2 separate regions of the Homo sapiens genome follow, and region 1 is linked to region 2. The links come from fine-mapping of genetic effects on gene expression. Tissue or cell type: whole blood. Region 2 holds a variant in brackets; the other region holds the start of a gene. Each region is shown on its reference strand, or each on the opposite one. Region 1 holds the start of FKBP8 (FKBP prolyl isomerase 8). Region 2 overlaps AP2B1 (adaptor related protein complex 2 subunit beta 1).

Region 1 (5,378 bases), not on the chromosome of region 2:
ACATCTGCCTCCCGGGTTCAAGCGATTCTCCTGCCTCAACCTCCCAAGTAGCTGGGATTACAGGCATGTGCCACCGCACCCGGCTAATTTCTGTATTTTTCGCAGAGACAGGTTTCACCATGTTGGCCAGGCTGGTCTCGAACTCTTGACTTCAGGTGAACCATCTGCCTCAGCCTCCCAAAGGCTGTTTTTGAGACTGGGTCTTGCTCACTGCAACTTCCACCCCTGGGGTTCAAGCAGTCCTCATGCCTCAGCCACCCCAGTATCTGAGATTACAGGCATGCACCACCATACCCGGCTAATTTTTGTATTTTTAGTAGAGACGGGGTTTCACCATGTTGGCCAGGCTGGTCTAGATTTCCTGACCTCAGGTGATCCACCCACCTCGGCCTCCCAAAGTGCTGGGATTACTGGCATAAGCCACCGCACCCAGCCCTCCAGGTGATTTCTTACATAGCTCTGCTATGCTACCACCTTTAACCTCCCTTCCTTCCTCAGTGATTTCCGTGAGACCCCACCACTACCTTTTGTGGCAGGCACTGTGCAAGCCTCAGAGCTATAACAATGAGAAAGAACAAAGCCTTCCCAGACTTTGGGGCTCTGCCAGTGTAGAGGGCAAGGCAGAGGTAAATCAAAGCAGTGGCTCACGCCTATAATCCCAACAGTTTGGGAGGCCAAAGTGGGAGGATTGCTTGAGCCCAGGAGTTCGAGACCAGCCTGGGCAACATGGGGAAACCCCATCTCTACAAAAAATATAAACATTGGGCCGGGCGCGATGGCTCACGCCTGTAATTTCAGCACTTTGGGAGGCCGAGGTGGGCAGATCACAAGGTCAGGAGATCGAGACTATCCTGGCTAACACGATGAAACGCTGACTCTACTAAAAATACAAAAAATTAGTCGGGCATGGTGGCAGGCGCCTGTAGTCCCAGCTACTTGGGAGGCTGAGGCAGGAGAATGGTGTGAACCTGGGAGGCGGAGCTTGCAGTGAGCCGAGATTGCGCCACTGCACTCTAGCCTGGGCTACACAGCGAGACTCTGTCTCAAAAAAAAAAAAAAAAATTAGCTGGACATGATGGTGCACCTGTGGGCCCAGCTACTCAGGAGGCTGAGGCAGGAGGATTGCGTGAGCCCAGGAGATAGACATGGTTGCAGTGATCTGAGATCGTGCCACTGCACTCCAGCCTGGGTTTCAAAGTAAGACCCTATCTCAAAAAAAAAAAGGCAGAGATATAAGTAAACTAGTTTGGGAAGCCGAGGCAGGCAGATCATGAGGTCAGGAGTTCCAGACCATCCTGGCCAACATGGTGAAACCCTGTCTCTACTAAAAATATACAAATTAGCTGGGCATGGTGGCGGGTGCCTGTAGTCCCAGCTACTCAGGAGGCTGAAGCAGGAGAATCGTTGGAACTTAGGAGGTGGATGTTGCAGTGAGCCGAGATCGCGCCACTGCACTCCAGCCTGGCGACAGAGAGAGACTCTGTCTCAAAAAAAAAAGAGAAAGAAAAAAAAAAAAAAGGCCAGGCACGATGGCTCATGCCTGTAATCTTTGGTACATCGAGGTGGGCGGATCACGTGAGGTCGGGAGTTTGAGACCAGCCTGACCAACATGAAGAAATCCCGTGTCTACTAAAAATACAAAGTTAGCCAGGCATGGTGGTGCATGCCTCTACTCCCAGCTACTTGGAAGGCTGAGGCAGGAGAATCGCTTGAACCTGGGAGGCAGCGGTTGCGGTGAGCTGAGATTGCGCCATTGCACTCCAGCTTGGGCAACAAGAGTGAAACTTCTTCTCAAAAAACAAAAACAAACAAACAAACAAAAAACCCAAGTAAACTAGTTATGAAGTGGACGTTCATCAACTTCATTGTGCCAAGACAGCTAAAGGGGGCACCTGGTCTTGCCTTGGGGAGGTTGGGAGGGCTTCCTGTAGGAGGTAACCTGGGAACTCCAACCTTAGAAGTGATCTCCAAAAAGCCAGTTACCACCTCCATGATAGCTACCTCCAAAAGCTGGTGTCTGACTCATCCATCCATCCATCCATCCATCCATCCATCCATCCATCCACCTACCCATTTATTGAGCTTCTATAGATGCCAGGCATGGTTCAAGGAGGTGCTGGGTACAAATCAGGTAAAAATCTCTGCCAGGATGAAGCAGAGTGAGGGATGGTCCCTCCAACCACAAGCAAAATAATGACAAGATAATTCTGGAAGGAGTAACTGCTAGGAAGGAAATAAAACTGAGTGAAGGAGGGAGAAGTGTCCCGGTTTCAAAACAAGATCCACAAAAACTTAGCTAATCAAGGATGCCACCTTCTTCCCGAGCCATGGGGACCTTATCACCCTCCAGCAGACAGTGCATAGAGGAGGAACTCCTCCCAGTGGCCCTGCTGGCTCAGTCGCCTGCGCAGCAGTAATCGAGCGCCTCCAGTATGCACCAGGCAACCTTCTAGACATTAAACTGTGTGGGGGATGGGAGGGAGGTTTCTGTATGCCTTTGGGCACGTCACTCCTCCTCAGGCCCTCAGGTTCACTTCTGTAACTAAGGCTTCAGGATGGGTCATTCAGCAACCCCAGAGCTGCCCTGCCCGTCAAGCTTGAACTCTTTAAGGAAATAACATTTAGAGTGGACTGTGCCCCCAGCAGCCCCCAAGGTGAGAGTGCATAGATGGGGGTGTTTATCCCCATTTCGCAGATGGTCAGGATGAAGCTCAGAGGAGAGGCAGGAGTCGCACAGGCTGCGCGATACTGACCCGTGTTGGGGTCCAGCCCAGGGTCCCCCGCCCCCGCCCCAGCCCCCGCCCCAGCCCCCGCCCCAGCCCCCGCCCCAGCCCCAGCAGCCGGGAGGCTTCGGTCCCTTTAAGAACGCCCCGCGGGGCCAAGCAGGAAGGGGGAGGTGCCAACGCCCGGGACGGACGTCTGCATGAGCCAACGGGTGCGGCAGTCGCGGCAGCGGCGGCCAATGGGCACGGCAGGGGCGGGGCCAAGCGGCCGAACCTGGTTCCCGAGGCGCGGCGGCCGCGGCTGGGGGCGGGGAGGGGGGCGCAGGACCCCAAGTGGGGGTCCCGGAGCCAGAGGCAAGTGTCCTGGGGTGCTGGGGGCGCCGTGCCGGCCGGGCCGCTGCCCTGGCCTAGGCTGGTCCGGGGGCTAGCGCGCCGGGGGCTGCGGCCGATGGGCGGGGCGAGGGGCCGCGGGGGTGGCGAGCCGGGGGGGCACGGGGGTCGGGGGTGCCCGAGGGGGCGCGGCCGGGCGGGGGTGGCCAGGGATGGGGGTCACTGGGGGCAAAGGGGATCCAGTGGGGGGGTCCCGATGGAGGCGTGCAGGGCCAGGGGCGCCCGAGGCGTGCGGGGGTCGGGTGCCCCAGACTGGTGGCGTCAGACAGGCGTGGGTCGTTGGGGGCCTGGGTCGCGGCTTGACTGAGGGCCCGGCCGGGGCTGTGGGGCGTCAGGAGAGCGTGGGGTGTTATGGGATCGGAAAGGGGGGGGCGTCTGGGGACACTGGAGTGTTTACGGCGAGACGGAGCGGCTGTGGGGGGAGCTGGCCCGTGCTGGGGGCGGTGGTGGTTGGGGTGGGGGGTGGGAGGGGAGGCCGAATTGTGCGGGCGCGGGGAATTATGGGGGTGGGGGCTGGGAGGGTCTCTCAAAGTGGGGCTCCGAGCCCGGGAGGAGCAGGCAGGTGAGGGTTAGGGAGGGGATGCGGCGGGCTGGTTTGATGGCTGTGCCACACTCTTCTGAGCTTGGGGCCTGGGGGACGGAGGGGTTGGTTATTGGTTCAGGAGGTCTGGGGCAAGGAAGAGGCTGTAGAATGTGGTGGGACCTCGACCACTCCTGGAAAGGAGGCTGCTTTGAGGGGGTGGGACCGAGGCCTGATGAGAGGAGGATGGTCTCCTGGGGAAGGATTTGGGCCAGGGTCCCTGATGTTGGGGTTGTGGGGGATAGTGTTAGATTCAGAGTGTGGAAGGAAAAAACGCTTGGGGTTTCTGGGTGATTACAGTTGGTGCTTTTGGGGAGGGTCTCCCCTTTGGAGAAGAGGCTGGAGGTGGGAGGCCCTGGTAAAAGATTCAATTTCCCCCAGTGGCCTTAGAGGCTCTAAAAATGGCTTCCCTAAGGCCTCGGAGGCTGTCCTCTCCACAAAAATCCCAGCACCCTTCGCTCAGCTTATAATCAGGCAAAGCCACAGGGCCTGAAGCCCCAGGTTCAAATCCTCCTTTGGCCTTTGGCTTTCTCTGTGACCTTGGGCAAATGCCTTTGCCCCTCTGGCCTGTTTCCTGTTCTGCAAAATGTTGAGGGGAATCTTCCCTACTTCCTGGAGTATTTGTAAACATTAAATAATAATTAGCTCTAATAATGGCTAACACTATTTGAGCCTGATGCCAAGGGCTTGATGCATGGGTTAATTTCTCCCAACAAGCTGGGGTTGTTGTTACACCCACTGTATAGATGAGGAAACTGAGGCCTGGAGCCCTTGAGTTACACAGAAAGTGATCGGCAGTGTGGGGAATCAGTACAGTGGAGACTTTGAGGGGCTGTGTAGGATTCTGACCCACATCTCTGCCCCCCACTTCCAGGGCCAATTCCTGTCCCCCCAGCAGCATGGCATCGTGTGCTGAACCCTCTGAGCCCTCTGCCCCACTGCCCGCCGGGGTCCCACCGCTCGAGGACTTCGAGGTACTGGATGGGGTTGAGGATGCAGAGGGTGAGGAGGAAGAGGAGGAGGAAGAGGAGGAAGAGGATGACCTGAGTGAGCTGCCACCGCTGGAGGACATGGGACAACCCCCGGCGGAGGAGGCTGAGCAGCCTGGGGCCCTGGCCCGAGAGTTCCTTGCTGCCATGGAGCCCGAGCCCGCCCCAGCCCCGGCCCCAGAAGAGTGGCTGGACATTCTGGGTAAGGAGCAAAGGTGGATCAGGGTGCCCTTGGCCCTGGCCCTCTCGTCCCCTGAGCCTCATTTCCCCATCTGTGCTGTGAGGGTTGGAAGTCACGTGGTCACCACCGTGATCACCAGCCAGAGGCAACTACTGGAGATGCTTCACATTGATGTACTCTATCCACTGACTCACACACATGCACAATGTGCTGTGTCCCCGTTTCCCAGATCTGCTAACAGTGGCTCAGAGAGGCTGAGTCACCTGCCCAGAGCCACACAGCCAGCACGCCAGGCGCTGGCAGCTCCTAACCCCATCAATGCATCTTTTTTTGGCATTTGTCTGACACATGCTTGGGCTCTGAAAAATGTGTCCTGAGTGCACGCCAGCCTGGGCAACACAGCGAGACCCCAACTTCCAAAACAAAAAATGTGTTCTGGGGTCAAGTGGATCAGAGGAATGTTATTTTGTTCAGCCTTCTGGTTGGTTCACAGTAGTGATAGTATTGTAAATGCT
Region 2 (5,378 bases):
TTATACTTGTTAAGACAAATCAGGAAAACTTATCTAGCCCACCTACTGGATGGTAACATGTATGAGGCTCTTTTCTGACTTAATTTTTGTTTGCTAACTCTATCATCAAGCATGAGAAAAGCCATAAAGAGAGAAATAATAATCCCTTCCATGTGCTTCACATGCAAGATATTTTATTTCCCTTGCACAACATACTTAGTTGACCTTATTATAGTCTAAAGAATCAAAATATCATATCAGAAGGCCAAATGCCTGTTTTGATTTATTGTTGCCAACACATGCCCAGTCTTGGTTACCAGTTGTCTGAAATAAATTACCACTTCTGTCAGTGAAACCCTTTTCATGTTTAAAAAAACAAAAAGATTAAATATAAGGTCTAGTAATAGGAAATATAGACAAAGAAAACGAGAGAAGGGGGAGAATTAAAAACAGCAATGGGGAGAAAAAGACCAGAAGAATGCTAAACAGAATGAGCAATTAGAAATCCTCTGTTATTATAGGCAACTGGAAATTAAACCAAGTGTATAATGCACCTAATGAAGTGTATGGTCTGATGTTTAAATAGGCAATTGCCACTTATCATGACATTAAAACAAGAAATGAAATGGAGAAAAGTAAGTCTAACTTAAGGATCCAGAAAGATCAGATTAGATGATTGTTTAGCAAAGCCTGCACAAATAAGAGAGATCACTGCCAAATGGTGACCGTCCAGAGGAGATGCTATCCTACCCCTCTATACCAAAACTCTAATGTTTCTCTAAAATTTCTTGAAGTTCCTTCCATCCTATCTCTACACTTTCATCTCCTAATCTCCACAGTCAGACTGTTACATTTTTAGCAACATACTGAGGCAGGCTCACCAGGCAGCACTCTCAGTTTTCCTGGTCCGTAAGCCGAGTTTCTCTCACTCTTCAATGAAAACTTAAAATAAATCAGTCGCACTGAATCTAAAGTATCTTAAAGAAAAAGACTAACTTTGAGACAGCAACTGGGTGGCTAGAGAGTACATGACAACTCACTTGTCAATGTTTATACTGTTTCTTTGGAATTCTGTACTATGAATATATATTGTTCCGTTTTTAAAATAAACTTTTAAAATAATAGATTGAAACTCAAGATTTACTTCCTCTTCCTCCAGAGTCTTCTCTAGACAATAATATCACAAAAGAACAAATCCAACCCTTACAATAACTGCCTTGACTCACCTGTATACTAAGACAAAGGTGTGCTTCTTTCATTTGAACTATTACTTTGATTTAGAACTGTTAACACAACTATGTGTAACACTTCTCCTGTCAAAAAATTGGCATTTCTCTTAGGAAATACTGACAGAAAGAGAACAATGGCCTTTAGCTACCATTTCAGAAAAATTAGAGTTTCCAAGAAAAAAATTGTATTTTTTTAAAGAGGCAGGGTCTCACTCTGTTGCCCAGGCTGGAATGCAGTCGCACTGATCACAGCTCACTGTAATCTCAAACTCCTGGACTCAAGTGATCCTTCCACCTCAGCCTCCTGAGTAGCCAGGACTACAGGCTTGTACCACCACACCCAGTCAAGTTTCTTAATTAAATTTTTAGAGATGGGGCTGGCTATATTGCCCAGGCTGGTCTTGAACTCCTGGTCTCAAATAATCCTCCCAGTTTGGCCTCCCAAAGTGCTGGGATTACAGATGTGAGTCACCATACCCAGCCAAAAAGGGGGGTTTCTAGAGAAAGTTTCGCTTTAAAAATGAATTTTTAAATAGGATTTCCTTGGGGTTTGTTTGGTTGGTTGGTTTTAAGAGACAGGGTCTTGCCCGTCACCCAGGCTACAGTGTAGTGGCATAATCATATAGTTCACTGTAATCTTGAACTAGCAGATGGGACCACAGTGCATGCCACCATGCCTGGCTAATTTTTTTTTTTGGTAGAGACAGGGGTCTCACTATGTTGTCCAGGCTGGTCTCAAATTCCTGGCCTCATGCAGTCCTCCCATCTTGGCCTCCTAAGGTGCTGAGATTACAGGTGTGAGCCACCATAAGGTACCTGGCCTACAAATAGGGTTTCTTAAGAGAGCTTCCTCAGCACAAGTTGATTTATAAAAAGTTGGCATCCAGGTGACAAAGGGACACATTTGCAGCATTAAAAAAATAAATCCTTGGCCGAGCACGGTGGTTCACGCCTGTAATCCCAGCACTTTGGGAGGCTGAAACAGGTGGATCACTTGAGGCCAGAAGCTTGGGATCAGCCTGGCCAACATGGTGAAACCCTGTCTCTAATTAAAATACCAAAAATTAGCCAGGCATGGTGGTGCATACCTGTAATCCCAGCTACTCGGGAGGCTGAGGCACGAGAATCACTTGAACATGCGAGGCAGAGGTTGCGGTAAGCCAAGATCACACCATTGCACTCTAGCCTGGACAACAGAATGAGACTCTGTCTCCAAAAAGATAAAAGTAAAATAAAAAACTAAAAAAAATCCTTTATTCATCTTGCCTCCCAATTATGGTAAATTCTATTCTTGGGGAGACTGAAACTAAACATTCCCCACCCCTCACATCCCCTCAAAGAGCTAACCCAATTATGTATACTTTACAGAGATAGATATTAAACACAAACATATATATAAAAGCAGCACATGTAGATGTGTAAAATCATACTCAATCCTAGACAAATCTTTCTCCGCCTTAATTACAGACTTCTCTTCAATATGATATTTCCTTATGGACCTGTGGAATCTGCTGGTTGTTTTTGTTTTTTTTTTAAATAGAAACAGGGTCTCACTATGTTGCCCAGGCTTCTCTCAAACTCCTGGCCTCAGGCAATCTTCCTGCCTTGGCCTCCCAAAGTGCTAATATTACAGGTGTGAACCACCATACCCAGCCTGAATTTTTAATGATAAGCAATTTGTATTTTTACTTACATTATACTAATAGAATGAGTTTTACAGAGATAAAAGACTGGAATAGCTAAAATGTATTGAATATTTACTTTGTGCTATTAATCCTCATAACAACTCTGAAGTAGCTGCTACTAAAAGCCACCTATTACAGATAACAAAACTGACTTAGAGAAGTTCAGTGACTTGCTTAGGGTCAACACAGCCAGAAAGGGATTCCTGCTTGAATCTGAACTCAAGGTCTGCATCTGATTCCAG[T/C]GTCTGAGTACTAATACTTGGTCTCCAGCATTTATAGAGCTTCCAAGACTTGTGAACTTCAACCAAGGGAAGGGAAAGAAGATTCAGAGTAGGGGAGGATAATATAATCCAAACATTATTTCCAGCAAAGGTGACATGTAGATTTATATACAAGGAGAAAAATGTATTCTACTTTATACATTTCAGAGATAATCATATCCTACAGTACTTAGGGAGGGAAAGATTTACTACCTAGCTATAAAATATGATTTATGATCTATACCTGTCTTATATGCAGCAGTTGAGGATAATAAATTTGACCTCATTTTGTTAAAAAAGGAGTGAGCTGGTACAGTAGGTATGGTTAGAATAAAAATGACCCTGTAAAAAAAAGGACTCTCAAAGGAAATCTAGATATAAACTGGGAGTGGAATATCACACACATAAGCTCACTTATGAGGAATCTCTCACCCATTTCCCTGTCCCTTAAAATGATTTTCACCTTGCACTCTAATTTCACTCATTTTCGTGGCCTTGGAACCTTAGAAACTTACCACTTTCCAGTTCAGTGACTTCTTCCTGTTAAGTAAATTACTATTTACAGGACTTTGATTTCCAGCAATGACCTTCAAGGTCACACACTATGAACAGATTTATGCTTCAGTTTTTCTGCTCAATTTACAATTATTTTGGCTGGTATCCCTGAAGACTTGAATAAAGTGAAAGAAGTAGAGTAACTGACCAAAACTATTATGAGGAAATACACAGGTGGTTTACATATTTTTGTTCTCTTCTAAATTAGCAGTGTTAGAATATTGCTATCTCCTTTACAGAATGACCTCAAATGACATGTGAGGCATAGGACAACATATTTGTTCTGAGAGTTTCAGTCATTATTATCTCCTTAAGGAGACAATGACTGCAGTACCAGTCAAACAAGTAAAACTTAGGGCTTATACTTTAATCCAAAACACTGTCTAGAATGCCAACTGTTAATATGCCTGCTACATTACAATCTAGAATATTCCATTTTTTCCCCATCTTCTTCCTTAGAATGAGAGGTAAAACTACCTAGTGAGCCAACACATCTCATTATGAAAAGAAAGTCTGATTACATAGTAACAAGGTTTACAAAAAATAAAATTCATTACTTAAGTGGTTTAAGATATGATTTAACAAAATTCAAGTACTCTCAAAGCCAAAACACTACAAATAAATATCGATAAACAAATAAAAGGCATGCCTATAACCATCACAGTTATTTGGACCATGGCCCCTAAAATTCATTAAAGCAAGCTGCAACTTGAACAAAATAAAACACTTATTATCACACCACTTATGATCTCCCCATTTCTAAGAGTAAAGTATTCCCCAGCCAAATTACAGCCTTGAGGTCATCTTAAAGTGACAAATGAGCCTTGATATACTGGCAAACCACCAAAACAACACACAACAGATCCAGCTTTCAGGAAGTTGCTGTTGAGAACTACTTTAAACGTACACCCTTGAATAATTACCTTGTAAAAGTAGTAAGTAGTACTCTTAGATTTAGCTTCATTTGTGGGTAAGTTGCCCTCAGAGCTTTAAAAAATTTAATCTTTAAAATTCTTCATCCTAAAAGTTTTAATCTTAACCTTAAAATTTTAATCTTATAAAATTAAAAAGTAAATTTTGCCACTGAAATACTAACCCTTCTAAAATTATTAATATCCGGCACTACAATCACTGTACAATATAGAATATATGTTTCTGCTGGGCATGGTGGCTCACTCACGCCTGTAATCCCAGCACTTTGGGAGGCTGAGGCAGGCGGATCACTTGAGGTCAGGAATTCAAGACCAGCATGGCCAACATGGTGAAACCCTGTCTCTACTAAAAATACAAAACTTAGCCAGGCATGATGGCATGTGCCTGTACTCTCAGCTACTCAGAAGGCTGAAGTGGGAGAATTATTTGAGCCCAGGAGATGGAGGTTGCAGTAAGCCGAGATTGTGCCACTGCACTCCAGCCTACGCGACAGAGCAAGACTTTGTCTCTTAAGAAAAAAAAAAGGATATGTGTTTGTTATTATTAGGGGCTTACTCCATATGAGGACCAGTATTAAGTGCTTTGCAAGCCCTCTGTCCTTTAATATTCACAACAATCCTACGATAGAAGCACTATTTGTAATCTCCACTTTGTAGATGAGGATGCTAAAATTTAGAGACACCACTCGTCTAAGAAATAGCAGAACCAGGATACAAACCCAAATCTATTTGGTTCTA

The links.
Region 1: it holds the start of FKBP8, and the variant in region 2 is fine-mapped to the expression of FKBP8 in whole blood (TOPMed, PIP 0.99).

Annotation. Positions count from the first base shown.
Region 1 is chr19:18,541,185-18,546,562 of GRCh38, reverse strand. FKBP8 (FKBP prolyl isomerase 8) reads left to right here and starts at 2,990. Exons shown (of 9, transcript NM_012181.5): 1 at 2,990-3,077; 2 at 4,568-4,884. The coding sequence starts at 4,593. RefSeq lists a silencer at 2,745-3,174 and an enhancer at 4,737-5,237.
Region 2 is chr17:35,616,846-35,622,223 of GRCh38, reverse strand. All of the region lies in intron 5 of AP2B1 (adaptor related protein complex 2 subunit beta 1), which reads right to left. Among named protein-coding and RNA genes, the nearest start is that of AP2B1, 32 kb to the right of the region's middle. The variant T/C (reference allele first, on the strand shown) is at 3,136.